Homo sapiens: one gene and its partners. Each later gene encodes a partner of the first gene's protein in a complex. Each region holds a gene or a part of one and is shown in the gene's direction. Other genes may lie near its edges.

What was found. Proteins that work in one complex are often made in the same cells at the same time.
Region 2: BRD8 (region 1) and ING3 share a complex: the UniProt entries of both Homo sapiens proteins name them as parts of the SWR1-like complex.
Region 3: BRD8 (region 1) and MBTD1 share a complex: the UniProt entries of both Homo sapiens proteins name them as parts of the nuA4 histone acetyltransferase complex.

What each region holds. Positions count from the first base shown.
Region 1 is NC_000005.10:138,168,593-138,175,635, reverse strand, and holds part of BRD8 (bromodomain-containing protein 8), read left to right. Parts: intron 1-3,501; coding exon 3,502-3,571; intron 3,572-4,225; coding exon 4,226-4,275; intron 4,276-4,475; coding exon 4,476-4,598; intron 4,599-4,723; coding exon 4,724-4,804; intron 4,805-5,226; coding exon 5,227-5,291; intron 5,292-6,277; coding exon 6,278-6,414; intron 6,415-6,947; coding exon of another isoform or gene 6,948-7,043. UniProt on the Homo sapiens protein: May act as a coactivator during transcriptional activation by hormone-activated nuclear receptors (NR). Isoform 2 stimulates transcriptional activation by AR/DHTR, ESR1/NR3A1, RXRA/NR2B1 and THRB/ERBA2.
Region 2 is NC_000007.14:120,974,760-120,977,742, forward strand, and holds the end of ING3 (inhibitor of growth protein 3), read left to right. Parts: coding exon 1-85; 3' UTR 86-2,457; downstream 2,458-2,983. UniProt on the Homo sapiens protein: Component of the NuA4 histone acetyltransferase (HAT) complex which is involved in transcriptional activation of select genes principally by acetylation of nucleosomal histones H4 and H2A.
Region 3 is NC_000017.11:51,201,024-51,208,066, reverse strand, and holds part of MBTD1 (MBT domain-containing protein 1), read left to right. Parts: intron 1-1,061; coding exon 1,062-1,179; intron 1,180-4,141; coding exon 4,142-4,276; intron 4,277-4,838; coding exon 4,839-4,927; intron 4,928-5,131; coding exon 5,132-5,366; intron 5,367-5,989; coding exon 5,990-6,045; intron 6,046-6,370; coding exon 6,371-6,475; intron 6,476-7,043. UniProt on the Homo sapiens protein: Chromatin reader component of the NuA4 histone acetyltransferase complex, a multiprotein complex involved in transcriptional activation of select genes principally by acetylation of nucleosomal histones H4 and H2A.

The sequences.
Region 1 (7,043 bases):
ACTCTTGGCCTCAAGTGATCCTCCCAGTTTAGCATCCTGAGTAGTTGGGAATACAGACCCTTGCCACCATGCTTGACTAATTTTTTGTGTTTTTTGTCACTTGTTGCCCAGGCTGGTCTTGAACTCCTGGGCTCAAGTGATCCTCCCACCTTAGCCTCCTAAAGTGCTAGGATTATAGGCGTGAGCCATCACTCCCAGCCTAGAACTATCATCATTTTACCTTTCTCGGTATCAGCCCCTCACCCCCTTTCTTTTGAATCATCCATTATGAATTTAACTCTCTTGCCACATTTATAAACAATTCAGTACTTTGCTGATTGTCATGCTTCCTAGCATTTTTTTTGTTTGTTTTTTAAATCTAATTTTTGAAGTAATATGTGGCCACCATAAAAACAAAAACACTATATAGAAAGCAATAGCAACAAAGAAATGGGTTAAAAACTTAAGTTTAAGGCCGGGCGCAGTGGCTCACGCCTGTAATCCCAGCACTTTGGGAGGCCGAGGTGGGCGGATCACAAGGTCAGGAGATTGAGACCATCCTGGCTAACACGGTGAAACCCCGTCTCTACTAAAAATACAAAAATCAGGTGTGGCGGCGTGCGCCTGTAGTCCCAGCTACTCAGGAGGCTGAGGCAGGAGAATGGTGTGAACCCAGGAGGCGGGGCTTGCAGTGATTTGAGATCGTGCCACTGCACTCCAGCCTGGGCAACAGAGCAAGACGCCATCTCAAAAAAAAAAAAAAAAAACTTGAGTTTATTTTTTGTCACACATACAGGAAGTCTAGGCAGTCCACAGCTCTCATAGCAACTTCACAGTGACATTAGAGGCTCAGGATATTCTCTTTCTGTTCCACCTTCCTCAGTGCATAGTTTATCTTCTGGTTATCTTATGGTTCACGGTGGCTGCTTGACCTTCAGCTATCACATCCTTGTTCCATGCAACAAGAAGGAAGGGGGTTGGTAAGAAAAGTCACATCTCTTCCCTTTTAACAACTTTTTTGTGATATAATTGATGTGCAGTAAACTGCACCTTTTTTTTTTTTTTGAGATGGAGTCTCTGTTGCGCAGGCTGGAGTGCAGTGGTGCAATCTTGGCTCACTGGAACCTCTGCTTCCCAGGTTCAAGTGATTCTCCCACCTCAGCCTCCCGTGTAGCTGGGACTACAGGCCTTTGCCACCATGCCTGGCTAATTTTTGTATTTTTTGGTAGAGATAGGGTTTTACCATGTTGGCCAGGCTGGTCTTGAACTCCTGACCTCAGATGATCCACCTGCCTCGGCCTCCCAAAGTGCCGGGATTACAGGCATGAGCTACGACACCCGGCCAGTGCACACATTTAGAGCATAAGACATGGTATTTTTGAAATATATATACATTTGTGAAACTATCCACAATTAAGGTAATTATTATAGTATCCATTAACAGATGAATGGGTAAAGAAAAAATATATATGTATACACACACACACACACACACACACAATGGAATACTGTTGAGCCATAAAAAAGAATTAAATCCTCCATTTGTGATTCCATGGTTGAGCCTGGAGGATAGTATGTAAAGTGAAATAAGCCAGACACATAAAGAAATACCATATGATCTCAGTTATATGTGGAATCTAGGAAAAATTATAGACCTCACAGAACTAGAGAATAGAATGGGGCTGGGTGCAATGGCTCACATCTATAATCCCAGAACTTTGGGAGGCCAAGGCAGGAGGTTGCTTGAGATCATGAATTGGAGACCAGTCTGGGCAATATGACAAAACTATAAAAAAACACAAAAATACTAGCCAGGTCTGGTGGTGTGTGCCTATAGTTCCAGCTACTCGGGAGGCTGAGGTGTGAGGATGGCTTGAGCCAGGGAGGCAACATAAGAGAAACTGTTCCCTACAAAAAAGAAAATTAGCCAGGCATGATGGTGCATCTGTGATTTCAGCTACTTGGGTGGGGCTGCAGTGGGAGGTTGCCTAAGCCTCAGAGGTGGAAGCAACAGCAAGCCATGATTGTGCCACTGCACTGAAGTCTGGGTGACAAAGTGAGATACTGTCTAAACAAAAACAATGTGTGTTTTGTATGTGTGTGTGTGTGTGTGTATACACATCACATATATTTGTATATGTATATAAATTGAGCTCATTTTTAAACAAAACAGGTAAACTGGTTTGAAATAGAATCTAATCTGTATATTTCCTCACATTTTTATTAGATAAATAGTGTTAAGAATCTTTTTTTTTTTTTGAGATGGAGTCTCACTGTGTCACCCAGGTTGGAATGCAGTGGCACGATCTCGGCTCACTGCAACCTCCACCTCCTGGATTTAAGTGATTGTCCTGGCTCAGCCTCCCGAGTAGCTGGGATTAAAGGTGCACGCCACCATGCCTGGCTAATTTTTGTATTTTTAGTAGAGGTGGGGTTTCACCACATTGGCCAGGCTGGTCTCAAACTCCTCATCTCAAGCAGTCTGCCCTCCTCGACCTCCCGAAGTGTTGGGATTACAGGCGTGAGTCACCACGCCCAGCCATAGAAAAATAGTATAAGAATACTTGAGTAAAAGTTTTAAATTTTATTATTTTATCAGCAGATACTAAGTCATAAGATTCAAAATTATATGCAGTGTCTTCCTCCCGTTACTATCCCCCGTCTACTAGTGTTAGCAGTTTCTTGTGTCTCTCCAGCAAAATTTTATGTGAGCAAATATTTTCTTTTTCCCCTTCATCCCCCTCATTTTCTAACACAAATGATTATATACTATATATGCTGTTCTTTTTTTTTTGAATGGCGGAGGGGGTGGTCTTACTCTGTCACCCAGGCTGGAGTGCAGTGGCGCGATTTGGGCTCACTGCAGCCTCTTGACTTCCTGGGCTCAAGGGATCCTCCTACCTCAGCTGCCCAAGTAGCTGGGACCACAGGCCGCAGGTACGCACCACCATACCTTGTCGATTTTTTTTTTTTTTTTTTTTTTTTTTTTTTGTAGGGATGGGATCTCCTCGGGTGGCTTGAACTCCTGGGCTTGAGCTGTCCTCCCACCTCTGCCTCCCAGAGTGCTGGGATTACAGGCACGGTCCATTGCACACCTCGCATTCATTGGCTTTTTTTTTTTTTTTTTTTTTTTTTGAGATGGAGTCTCACTCTGTCCCCAGGCTGGAGTGCGGTGGTGAGATCTCGGCCCACTGTGACCTCCGCCTCCTGTGTTCAAGAGATTCTCCTGCCTCAGCCTCCCGAGTAGCTGGGACTACAGGTGCATGCCACCATGCCCAACTAATTTTTGTATTTTTAGTAGAGACGGGGTTTCACCATGTTGGCCAGGTTGGTATTGATCTCCTGACCTTGTGATCCACCCGTCTTGGCCTCCCAAAGTGCTGGGATTACAGGCGTGAGCCACCGCGCCTGGCCATTCGCATCTTTTTTATTCCAAAGTTTGAACTCCAAGCCTTGCACTCTCAGCATACCTCTCCTATTGTTTTCTGCTTGGTGTGTAATAAAGCTTTCCTCATTTTGTAGGGTATCAGTTAGCAGAGCAATCAAGCCCTTTGCAGAACCTGGCCGCCCTCCAGACTGGTTCTCTCAAAAAGTAAGTTCCCAAGCAAGGGCTCTTTTAGAGCAGTCTTTGGGTTGTAAAGTAGGTTCTCTACCAGGCCCTGACTTTTAGTTACAAAGCTTTTATACCATGATGTGGGAAAATAGTTGAGAATACCTTTTTCTTTTTCCTACTGTTTGCTAATCCATCCATGTATGATCATATTAGACCTTTCTTATTGGTGTTGCATAACAGTTAAGAGCCCAAGCTTGGGAATTAGATCTGGGTTCATTATTACTCCATCTAAAAACTTTGGGCCATGATCCTCTGTTTTTTCATTTGTAAAATAGAGATAAAAGAGTTGCTTCAGGATTGTTGTGAAGCTAATTGAAGTAATACATGTAAAACATTTAACACAGTGCCTTGCATGTAGTAACTACTTGGTAGATATTAGCTATAAATATTGGCAGTTAGGTTGCCTTTCCGCAAATGCACAAACTCCAGTCCATAAGACTGTCTTTTTCTGTGTCTTGTTTTGATTATTTTGAACTGATTTGATTATAAAGTTACTTGCCCTCCTAGTAAACCACTCCCGTCTTACATATAGTTCTCTTCTCTAAATCTTACTCTAATCTCTTGAAACTTTGAAAGGTCATTTCTTTCCAGCCTTGCTCATCACATTTTCACTTTTTTTTTTTTTTTTAATAGCATTGTGCTTCCCAGTACTCGGAGCTTTTAGAGACCACTGAGACACCAAAGTGAGTACAAAGCCAGGTACTTCAGCCATATTTCTTTAGTGGAGAGTATTTACTGAGGAATTCTGGTTTATACTTAGTTATGATACTGGATGATTAAAAAATAGCAGAAGTTATCTATGATTAAGTGGTAAAAGCAAGTAGGAGAGGGGATAAATGTTATGTTATTTGAATATGAATTTTTTTTTTTCAATTTTCCACAGACGGAAACGAGGTGAAAAGGGAGAAGTGGTGGAAACTGTTGAAGATGTTATTGTTCGGAAATTGACTGCTGAGCGAGTTGAAGAACTAAAGAAAGTGATAAAGGAAACCCAGGAGAGATATAGGTACTTATCAGAGAGAATGCCAAAAAATTGAGAAAGACATAAGGGACTGTCTTCTGGTACTGGTCAGAACTTTTAAAATAGCAGATTAAAAAACCCAGTCTACCTACCTCTCTTTCTTCCTATAGACGGCTAAAGAGAGATGCAGAACTAATTCAAGCTGGACACATGGACAGCAGACTGGATGAGCTTTGCAATGACATTGCAACGTGGGTTATATTATATTGTTCTTCTGTGCTTCTTTCTTTTTACCCTCTTTTCCCCTCAAGTAATCTGGCTTATTTCCTCCAATTGCCGTCCCTTTAGACTTGAGACAGATTCTGGAAGGGGAAAGCTGCAAAGTGGTTTGGTGGCTGGGAGGGGGGAGTGAGTCCTAGAAGGTAATATAATGGGACATTTCAGTATGAAAACATAACTTAGTTCTAACTTAAGAGTGGCTATAGTTTGCCTGGGTGAAGAACTGGGAGTTAGGCAGTATACCCCAATTCACTGTTTTGCTGGTTAGAATTCCTGTTTAGGCCTTTCTTCCAGAAAGTGCTGGCCTGGCAAAAAAAATTACTTTGTAAGGGTTCTGTGAACTCTGGGGAGGAGCCAGAGCTGTCTAGCATCTAACCCTTAATTCCCTGTTTAGGAAAAAGAAATTGGAAGAAGAGGAGGCTGAAGTAAAGAGGAAGGCTACAGATGCTGCATACCAGGGTAAGCTGAACCTAGTATGCCTCTTTAGCAATTGATTGCACAGTACTGCATGCTAATGACAGTTGGACTGTTTTGTAACATAGAATACATTGATTTAAATTTACTTGCAGTTTTCTCTTCTACCAGAATAAAAACATCCCTTAATGTCTTAAGAAGAAACTCCTAGAACATGCGTTGTGCTCAGATCTCACTAGACCTTAAATTAACTTCAGGACACAAAGGCTTGATGAGATATTGAACATAATGTTTTAGAAGTCAAGGGCCTGTGAAAAGATTGAGAATAGCTCAGTCATTAGATGAGGAGAAATTTAAGCATTTACAACTCTAGGAATACATGCTGTGCGCCAGTGAGGTCTTTCCCTGTTTTTGTTTTTTGTTTTTCCCCCAGGCGGAGTTTTGCTCTTGCTGCACAGGCTGGAGTGCAGTGGCGCGATCTTGGGTCACTGCAACCTCCGCCTCGCGGGTTCAAGTGATTCTCCTGCCTCAGCCTCCCGAGTAGCTGGCATTACAGGCGGCTGCCACCACACCTAGCTAATTTTTGTATTTTTAGTAGAGATGGGGTTTCGCAGGCTGGTCTCAAACTCCTGACCTCAGGTGATCCACCTGCCTTGGCCTCCCAAAGTGCTGGGATTACAGCCGTGAGCCACTGCACCTGGCCTTCCTGTTCTTAAAAGCAGAATATTAGTAAGTTGCTAAAGAGAATATTAAAGGATGTTTAAACTACTTTCCCACTCCAAGGACCTTTGGGATAATTAAGTAGTTTGAGATTGTTAAAGGAGTTTCTTAGTGTGAGAATTGCCCTTAGGAAAAATTAGGCTAAAAAGTTATCCATCTCTAGAAGTGTTAAAGCTTTCTAATCCAAACTTATTATGCTGCTTTAGTAATGCAACATACCTATTTGTCCTTTATTGTATAATAGCAGACTAGTGTCAAGTTTCATTTATTTAATCTTGAAGATTTGGACATTGTTCTCTTTTATGTTCTAGCTCGTCAAGCAGTAAAAACACCCCCCCGGAGGTTACCCACTGTGATGGTTCGCTCTCCTATAGATTCTGCCTCCCCAGGAGGTGATTATCCACTTGGGGACTTGACTCCAACCACTATGGAAGAGGCTACCTCTGGGGTGAGTATATTTCCATCTGTGGGAATTGATCAGTGAAGGGGCAATAAGCCGGCAGAGCTGAGCGATGAGGAAACCACTTTTGGCCTAGAGGCAACTTCCTCTCTTGATCTGAATGCTAAAGACTTAATTTACCATGTTCTGTGCTCTGAGATAAGAACGGACCTAAAAGCATTGAGGCTTTTGACCTTTTTGAGAGATAGGTAAAAAACTATTTTAAGAAATTGTTTCATACTAGTCTTATGAAATTCCTGCTGAAATAAGGGACAAAATCCTTGTAAATGTAATATTGGTAGTGGGTAAGGAGTTCATAAAAGGCAGGTTGGGTGGGATGGTTGAGTCACTGTGGGTTTGAGTGGATGAAAGAGAAGATTGTGGGGAAGAAAAGTATGGCTAAGAGCAGGAGGGATAGAGGGTTTCTGGGCAATTCCACTCAGGACTAATAAAATAATAGTTAGACACACTAACCCATACAGATTAGTAGGGAACCTTCCATAGTTTGAGAAGTCAGATAAAGGTTCTCTGTTGTCTCTTAGGTAACCCCCGGGACTTTGCCGAGTACCCCAGTCACCTCGTTTCCTGGGATTCCTGACACCCTTCCTCCAGGCTCTGCACCCTTAGAAGCCCCCATG
Region 2 (2,983 bases), on another chromosome or scaffold:
TGGATTGACAGAGGCACCAAAAGGCAAATGGTACTGTCCACAGTGCACTGCTGCAATGAAGAGAAGAGGCAGCAGACACAAATAAAGGTGGTCCTTTTGTTTGATGAAGAAATAAACTTCAGCTGAAGATTTTATATAGGACTTTAAAAAGAAGAGAAGAGAAAGAAGAAACAATGCATTTCCAGGCAACCACTTAAAGGATTTACATAGACAATCCTATAAGATCTTGAACTTGAATTTTATGGGTTGTATTTTAATAATGTAAGTAAATTATTTATGCACTCCTGGTGTGCTATGAATATTATTCCAGTTAGCCTTGGATTATTTCAGTGGCCAACATATGCAGACATTTGTACTCCTCAACCATTTTCTCAAAGTAATGGGCATTCTATGATTTAGACTTCAAGGAATTCCAATGATGAAGATTTTAAGGAAAGTATTTTATATTCAACAGGTATATTCTGCTGCATGTACTGTACTCCAGAGCTGTTATGTAACACTGTATATAAATGGTTGCAAAAAAAAAAAAAAGTCAGTGCTTCTAAAAAGAATTTAAGATAATGGTTTTTAAAATGCCTTTATAATAAGCTTTGTTTCTTTGTGAAACTAATTCAGCAGGCTGAAGGAAATGGTTCATGTGATAATGTGGGCTGGTATCCTCTAGAGTACCTGGGTACATAAACAGAAACTCCTGTAGGTAAAAAGTAATTTGTGCCATTAGTCTTTCTATGTTTCTGCATCCAGATAGAGTGCAGTTCATGAGGGAGGGGGCGGGGGACTGAAGGGGAAAGGGCGTTAAAGTGATACATTTTTATACCAAATGTGTTTATTTTTTTGTGCAAGTAATCCTTAAAATTGCAATTGTATTAGGTGTTAAAATAAAGTTTTTAAAAAATTACTTGTATTTATACTTTACATACTTAATAATGAAAATTTCTGAATTCCAATTAACTTTCAACTTTCATAATCTAAAAAGAATCAGAGACCCAGGACACAGAATACTGTGTAATCTGTGATGTCTTTAATGATGTTTAGAGTTTGTGATATAAGAATACAGGAAAGACATTTTTAATGTAAATTTGAAATGCCAATGTATTTTTTTAAGAACATCATCTGGCTTTTCCTTCAGTCTAAAAGACATGAAAGAAGTGTAAGTATAGCAGTTAAAACGAAAATAATGGTTATGGGTGTTTTGACTGGAGGCAATGTAGCCAAATAGAGTAAAGAGACCCCCCTGGTCGGGAGCTCCAAATTGAGCTATTTTTGATTCTACCACTTACTGATATGACAGTTAATTCAAATTTTGTATCACTCTGGGCCTTACTACACCAGGGTGATGCTGACTGCAGAATAGATCTTATTCTAAGGTGCTATTTAAATTATAAATTTGCATAGTGGAGGTTTTATTTAAAGTATAATATTGAGTCTGGTCGATAGAAAAATCCTTAACTTTTAAGATACTTAATATATCATATATATTTTATATTGAAACTTACTGGGTCCATCAGATTTCTGCTTTAATTAAACCACTTATGAGCTTCTTAGAACTTATTCAGATAACAGTGTAAAATCTATGCAGTGCTACCCAAAGGGTGTGAGGTAGATAGGGGATTTCAAAGATCTCTTCCACCTTTGAGATCCCATGATTCTGAGCTGCCACAGTCTGATTATACAACTCTACCAGCTCCCTAAACAAGTTAGGTTCATTTGTGAGTACTCATCATTTCATAATATCATGATTATCACGATTTCATGATACTCAATATTTTGAGATTTTATAACCCTTTAAGAAGTGATAAATAATGTAGTATTCAATTCGTTTATCAAAGTATATTGCCTGGAAATGCTCACATGTATCATTTACATCCTCTATATATTATGACTATTCCAAACTCATTCATTTTATAGAAATGGTCAAAGGAAAAAGCCTTATGTACAGCCTTATTTGAAGAGAAAGTTCTTTGTCTGAGTCAGGAACATCCTGTTATCCAGCTGCTACATCCCCTTTCAGTGTGAATTCCACTCCTTACCAAATCACTTAGAAAACACTTTGACAAGTTTTAAACTCAAACACTGAATATTTTATGAAGCATGTGTAAAGAAAGAAACCAAAATTTGGTGCAGGTATTTAGTAATGGGTAGAACCTGTTAATATCTGAGTCATATATAATGGGGCCAAACATGGAACTACCTCATCAACCCCCCAAAAATGTGGCCAACTATTAATATTCTTTGTGACATTTACACCAAGGGGCATAGTAAGTATTTTTGGTATTATAAAATACACATTCAAAATCTCTGTTGTACAAAACTCATGTAACAGTTGGGACAAAATATCCAAATGTGGGTTCACAGTTCACAGGTGGTGAAAATTGAGGCCTTACTGCTATGGAGTGTATATCAAAATGTTCATGGTGACACATTTGAAGCAATAAATGGCTTAATTAAATGCCAAAATGAGGCTGAGTGTTTGATAAGCATACAATCATTCTTTTCAAGGGCAGTTTATATTTTTTTGTTCTCTTCTCCTTTAAAGCAAATTCCACGTTTTAGGTTTTTAACCATCTTAGGTTTGTGCAATATTAGTGCCCTTTGTCTTTAGACTTTAGGAATGGTCTTATTGACCTAATTAATTATTTTAATCTTATGCAAATAAATGTCTAACAAACTTGGGTTATAAAGGGGTATAAGATACTCCTTAATGTGTAGACATTGCAATGGTTTCCCCTCAGCTCTCACAGATAAAAATACATTTATTTTTTAGCAGATGGGTTTTAAGAGAAAAAAAGACCCTTAAAAATATTCTTTAACTTTACAAATACTAAGCACCTAGATTCTGAGAATATACAGATGAAGGTATTATATGTGTGTGTGGGGGGAGTTGGTGGGGGCAGACATGTTAAATGTGTTATCTTGATGAATGCTGTAATGGATACACAAAGCACTGGGAGAACACTGGGAGGCAGGGAAATTGATTACTGAA
Region 3 (7,043 bases), on another chromosome or scaffold:
TTCAAATTGGCTAGTTCATGTAACTCCTAGATATCTTTGCTCATCTTTGAGCTTTGAGGCTATTTTGGTTTTTCCTGATTTGTTCATACTATCAAGTCTTTTATAACCTCACATAATCCTTTTCTTTATGATCAACATTCTAAATTGAATGAGGAACTGACTGTCCAGAGCAACACAAACTGTTTAGTGTTATCAGCATTTATATTCTTAAATTTGCTTATTTGATTTAATTTACCATTGCATAAGTTCCAAGTAATTGTGAATTGCCTTGAGTTTTAAAGATTAAAATATAATGGAAACAATACTTTGGGAACATCTGTTAGATTTCAGAAAATCCCTTCATGATGCTCATTTAATTGATTTTCCGAGTCCCCATCTTAACCATTTGCTGTGGGAGGCTAGTGATTACCGGTTCTAACATTGGAAGTTTTCTCTTTATAGTAATTTCTACATGAGAAATTTTGAAATAATAATTTAAATAGTTTACCATGGTACTCATCTCCAAAACTCTTCAACTCCACCTTCTTAATAACTTTATCCAGTGCTTTTCCCTCACGTCCATCTATGTGGACTAGATTTCTAATCTATGAATTTAATTTAAATTGAAAATTTTCATTTCTCTTATTCATGTTGTTGGAAACCACACTGCTGATTGGAATTGTTTTTCTTTCTGCTCTTAGGCCAGATCTTTTAAAAGTAGAAATTAGGGTGAAGTGTATTCACTCAGTACATATTAAAAATTTCTTAAATCAGTTTAATCCTATTAAATCTGCTATTGAGTTTGTAATTCCACTCATAGAAAAATCGCTGCTTAAATCTCATATTAGGACAGTATCAGATTTTGAAGTCAGCATGAATCTAGTCTAATATATGTGAATTTTCTCTTTATCTTGTTTGTCCCTGAAACTGGCTTTTTCCAGATAGAATTCTAGGAAACAAACGGAATTAAAATGACATTTTTAGTTTAATATTCCTATTATTGATGGTACTGCTTAATTTTCATTGATATGTTTTAGGCTTTATGTTAATAAGACAATAATTTAATGATTTTTATGTGACAGGCACCTATGGGGACCTGCTGGGGTGATATCTCAGAAAATGTGAGAGTAGAAGTTCCCAATACAGACTGCAGCCTACCTACCAAAGTCTTCTGGATTGCTGGAATTGTAAAATTAGCAGGTGAAAAGCATGAATAATAGTTTAGTAGAAAATGCAGAGATCCTTGTAACCTTTCGTAAAAAAAGCATGTTTATAAATTTTGCAAGTATTGCCAAATAAAAAATATGTTATGATATAGGGCAGGGGTTGGCAAATTGTTTTCTGTGAAAAGCCAAACAAATATTTTCAACTTTGCAGGCCATATGATCTCTGTCACAGCTATCCGTCTCTATCATTATAGCATGAAAGCACCCTTAGCAATACATAAACAAATGGACATGATTGTGTTCCAGTAGAACTTTATTTACAGGAAATTTGAATTTCATATAATAGTTATGTATCATGAAATATCCTTTTTTTCTTTTCAACCATTAAAAATGTAAAAGTAATTCTTAGATCACAGCCATAAAAATAATCCAGCAATAGACCAGATATATAGGCCATAATGTATATGTTACTTTGAAAAGTAACAAAAGTTGAGGTACTAAAAAAAGTGGTAAGAGCTGGCCACAGTGACTCATGCCTGTAATCCCAGCTTTTAGGGAGGCAGAGGCGGGAGGTTAGCTTGAGCCTAGGAGTTCAAGACCCACCTGGGCAAAATAGCGAGACCCATTCTCCATTTTAAAAAAATAAAAATAAAGTGGTAAGAACCTTAATACCAAATTGATACAAGTGTTGATAATTTTATATATCTTGGGTTCTTCCGTTCTGTTTATTCCCACTGCCTCCACCATACCAAGCCCTTTACTGCTCATGAAGTAAACATGTTAGGAATCTACTATGGTAGACAATGTGGACAAAAGATGATATCCAGAAGTATAAGACTTGTATTTTTTCCAGCATGTTCACATCGGCCAAATGTTGACTACTACCAGGTATTAATATGACAAGATACTCAGTGAGTAGTGTAGTAGGGCATTGTGGAGGAGAGGCAGGCAGCCACTCATAAGAAAAGTTATCTTCAATTACTACTGTGACAGATTTTTAACTCCTCCCACTCTCTCTAGTTTTATTTCCGGCATTCTCCTCAAAACACACTGTAGACTGCTCTGTTGTGTACTGCTAATTGACTTAATTTACCTAAAAATTATTTTAATTTTATTTTTCTGTTCAAGCATCTTTTATGGCCTCTTTGTACTTAAAGGATCAAGATAGCCAGCATTTATGACTATTGATGAGTTGCACCATATACCACATGCCAGATGTATTGTAGTTCTCCAGCATAAATGATCTGTTGTGATGAGGCCAGTCTCCCTCTCCCTTTCATACAGCACGTTTTTGTCACCTCTGTGCCTTGGGTTACTCTTGCAAGAGTGTCCCATCTCTGTACTGAACTGTACTACTACCCAAGTCAATTCCCCATCTTTTTCTTGAAACATTTTCCCAGCTGTATAAGCATTCACTAAATGCTTGTATTATTCTCTACACTGTAATTTAAAACAACAGCATATTATTTTTGCCCTGGGTGTTTAAGTTAGTTACATTTAAATAGCTCTTAAGATCAGTGCATTTACTATCCAAAAATTACTTCTGCCTTCCATCTCCGATTTTACATTTCTGTTTTATCTAACTGCATCATGTATCTTCTTTTAAGCCACTTTAATGCCATTGTAGAAGTGAGCCTAATGTTAACCAGAAGCTAGAGTTCAGCAGTAATTAGCAAACTCATAAATTGTTCTGAGAAATTATTGAATTTTAAAACTGAACATTTAAGGCTATAAATTTTCACAAACATGAAAATGCTGACTAAACTTGTCTCCTAACCTGAAATACACATATATTGGCCTTTTTCTGTTTCATTAAAGGCCTTAAATTAAATCGTAATCTTTTATCAACATAAAGTTTATAGAATTATAAATAGGATATATTACATATTTTTTGTACTTTCCAAGAGTAAGCCTTCCTATTTGCCTAAGACATAGTTTTTAACTCATTTTACATAATTTTCTTTGTGTTTATTGAACTTTTTACCTGGCATATTCAAATCTTATTTCCAAATACATACGACAGAAAAATTTAGATTCTTAAAGTAGCCACATTCAAATTACCCAGGAGTAATTGGCCACCTAAGCAGCTGGATAAAGCAATTTCTTTGAAATACATTTCAAGGCCAAGCACAGTGGCTCATGCCTGTAATCCCAGCCCTTTGGGAGGCCAAGGCGGGCAGATCACCTGAGGTTGAGAGTTCGAGACTAGCCTGGCCAACATGGTGAAACCCCATCTCTACAAAATACAAAAATTAGCTGGGCATGGTGGCGCACGCCTGTAATCCCAGCTACTCAAGAGGCTGAGGCAGGTGAATCACTTGAACCCAGGAGGCAGAGGTTGCAGTGAGCCAAGATCACACCACTGCACTCCAGCCTGGGCGATAGAGCAAGACCCTGTCTTCATAAAATATATATATATATATAATTATATATAATATAAATAAATATATAATATGTATTTTTATATGTTTATATGCTTATACATAAATATGTATGTTATATGTATAATTACATATATATGCCTATAATCCCAGCTACTTAGGAGGCTGAGGTAGGAGAATCGCTTGAACCCAGGAGGCCAAGGTTGTAGTAAGGCAAGATTGCACCACTGCACTCCAGCCTAGGCAACAGAGCAAGACTCCATCTCAAAAAAGAAAAGAAAAAGAAATTATGGGTACAATTGAAATACATGTAAGGATGCCATGCTCTGAAAACAGTTGAACTGTTTGCACTGAACAGATGGTTCTCAAAGTTTGGTTCATAGACCAGCAGCAACAGCATCACCTGAGGACTTGTTAAAAAGGCATATTCTCAGTTCCCACCCAAGATCTACAAAATCAGAATCTCTGGAGTGAGACCCAGCCATCTGTCTGTTAACAAACCCTGCAGGTGATTGTATTGCAGATAGACACTAGTTTGACAACTGCTATCAGATGCTGTATTGTTTTATTTAATTTTATTTTCTTATTATGTAGTGATTTATTTCTGGGTTTCAGGTTACAATGCCCTTTTAAGATATGAAGGATTTGAAAATGACTCTGGTCTGGACTTCTGGTGCAATATATGTGGTTCTGATATCCATCCAGTTGGTTGGTGTGCAGCCAGCGGAAAACCTCTTGTTCCTCCTAGAAGTAAGTAGTTTATTTACCCTTACCGTAATTTTTTTATATGTGTACTTTAATGCTATTTTACACATAGTAATGTTAGAGTAATATGGAAATTAAAGGCCGGGCATGGCCGCTCACACCTGTAATCCCAGCACTTTGGGAGGCCAAGGCAGTCGGATCACTTGAGGTCAGGAGTTTGAGACCAGCCTGACCAACATGGCAAAACCCCATCTCAACTTCTCCCTAGCTGGGCATGGTGGTGCATGCCTGTACTCAGGAGGCTGAGGCAGAAGAATCGCTTGAACCGGGGAGATGGAGGTTGCAGTGAGCCAAGATCACGCCACTGCACTCCAGCCTGGGCAACAGAGCGAGACTCCATCTCAAAAAAAAAGAAAGAAATTAAAATAGTTTTTTTGGTGTTAAGCAGCTTTTTGCTGGCAAGGCATATACTTGCTTTCTCTATATTTGTTACTTTTCAGAATGTTAATAGCCTGACTTTGCAAGGAAATTTGTTACTTTTTTAACAAATAATTTATGAAGCAGTTCTTTTTTGCTAAAGTATAACTGATTATTTCTTCTATTTTAGCTATTCAGCATAAATATACAAACTGGAAAGCTTTTCTAGTGAAACGACTTACTGGTGCCAAAACACTGCCTCCTGATTTCTCCCAAAAGGTAAAAAACAGGATCTTATAAAGACTGAAGAGCTCTAAAAAACAAGGGTAACAGAGAACATTTTTAAGGAATTGGTTTAATTTTGTGAACCAGATGATCTGTGTTACATTTCAAGTGCATTCAGTATTTTTTACAGTATAATACAAAAATTTCTTGTAGACCTTTGTCATGAATTTCGAGCAGTTTTTTTTGTATGCTTTTAAGGTTTCAGAGAGTATGCAGTATCCTTTCAAACCTTGCATGAGAGTAGAAGTGGTTGACAAGAGGCATTTGTGTCGAACACGAGTAGCAGTGGTGGAAAGTGTAATTGGAGGAAGATTAAGACTAGTGTATGAAGAAAGCGAAGATAGAACAGATGACTTCTGGTGCCATATGCACAGCCCATTAATACATCATATTGGTTGGTCTCGAAGCATAGGTCATCGATTCAAAAGATCTGGTAAGCACCTATCACAAGAACTCCTGTCAAAAGCATCATTGAGGCTGATTATACTAGTTGGTTATTTTTCTCTGCAGAATTGCATAGATGAAAAATAGCATTCTAGTTGTTTGGGCTGCTTCTTCTACCTTAATTAGTGAAGGTTCACACCATATTAGTGTCCTAATAAATTTTTTTATATTCCTTCCACTTGTTCTCCAAAAGAAGGAACTTCTTCTGGTCACAACTATAATTGTTTCTTTCTTTTATTATTCAGCCCATTTGAAAGATCTAAAGATACCTTTCCCTTTCCATTCAATTTTAATCAAAATAGCAAGATTAAATGTGGTTAGACTTAATACTAAGCACATGAAAACATGCTTCTAAAGTTGTAATTTTCTAACTAGGGAATTACATTAAAATTATGAGCATTAAAATTGGCTGAATGTATTTAAAAGCATATATGCACATGTACTCTGAAGAGAGAAAAGACTATTAAAGAATATTCACCCCAAATGTAGAAGGCATGTCTTCTTGCCATGTTTTATAGTATGACATACTTTGTGAGTTTGAAGCCTTCAAAGAACGTGGTTTTTGGTCTTCTCACAAATGCTGACAGATTAGTGTGTAACTTTTCCTTGTAGATATTACAAAGAAACAGGATGGACATTTTGATACACCACCACATTTATTTGCTAAGGTAAGAAGTTTTTATAAGAACCCTCATTTGTAAATTAGGTTTGAAAGAGGGTTGTGGGTTTTTTCCTAAAATTACGGAAATCACAATTACATATGTTCACTTAAAAGAATTAAGACCTTGTAAATTCATAGGTGTCACAACTCTTTATTATAATTATTCTTAAATTCTATTTGTCTGAATTCTCTCTAAACCTTAATGGAAGTTTGAGTTATAATATTAGGTAGGTAGGAGAAGGCACCTGGTAAATCTTTTCACATTGGTAATATTTTAATTATCAAAATAACAACATTTGTAACAGTAGATGTGCTTTCATATAATTCTTTAGGTAAAAGAAGTAGACCAGAGTGGGGAATGGTTCAAGGAAGGAATGAAATTGGAAGCTATAGACCCATTAAATCTTTCTACAATATGTGTCGCAACCATTAGAAAGGTAAGATAATAGGTTTTAAAATATAGAAATGCAATTATAGGATTTGGGTATAAGCTAATAGAAGGAGTCCCCAAGCATATTCGTTTTGACATAAAATGTGTATGTGTATATCTTCACTGGGGAGAAGGTTGCTAGGAATTTCAAAATAAATTTGAATCCTCTGATCTTACATAGTTTATTGTCAAGATTGTCATTTTGAGTCTGCTACACTTATTTATGGAAGTATATCCTAATTTAGAGGAAAAATATTTATTTAAGTTACTTCTAGACAAGGCTAGTCCAATTCAGAATTGTAACAAGGCCAAGTTTATCTTCAGTTTCCTGTGTTTCCTCTTTAGGCCTTTTTCTTCCTTTTGGTAGTAGTTTTTGCTGCTTTTCTCTTTTCCCCCTCATCTGAAACTGCTCTTACAAAAAGACCTAGAAGAGAAATTCTTGGGTTTTTTGTTTGTTTGTTCATTTTTTTTTGAGACAGTCTCTCTCTGTCGCCTAGGTTGGAGTGCAGTAGTGTGATCACAGGCTCAAGTGACCCTCCCACTTCAGCCTTCAGAGTGGCTGGGATCACAGGTGT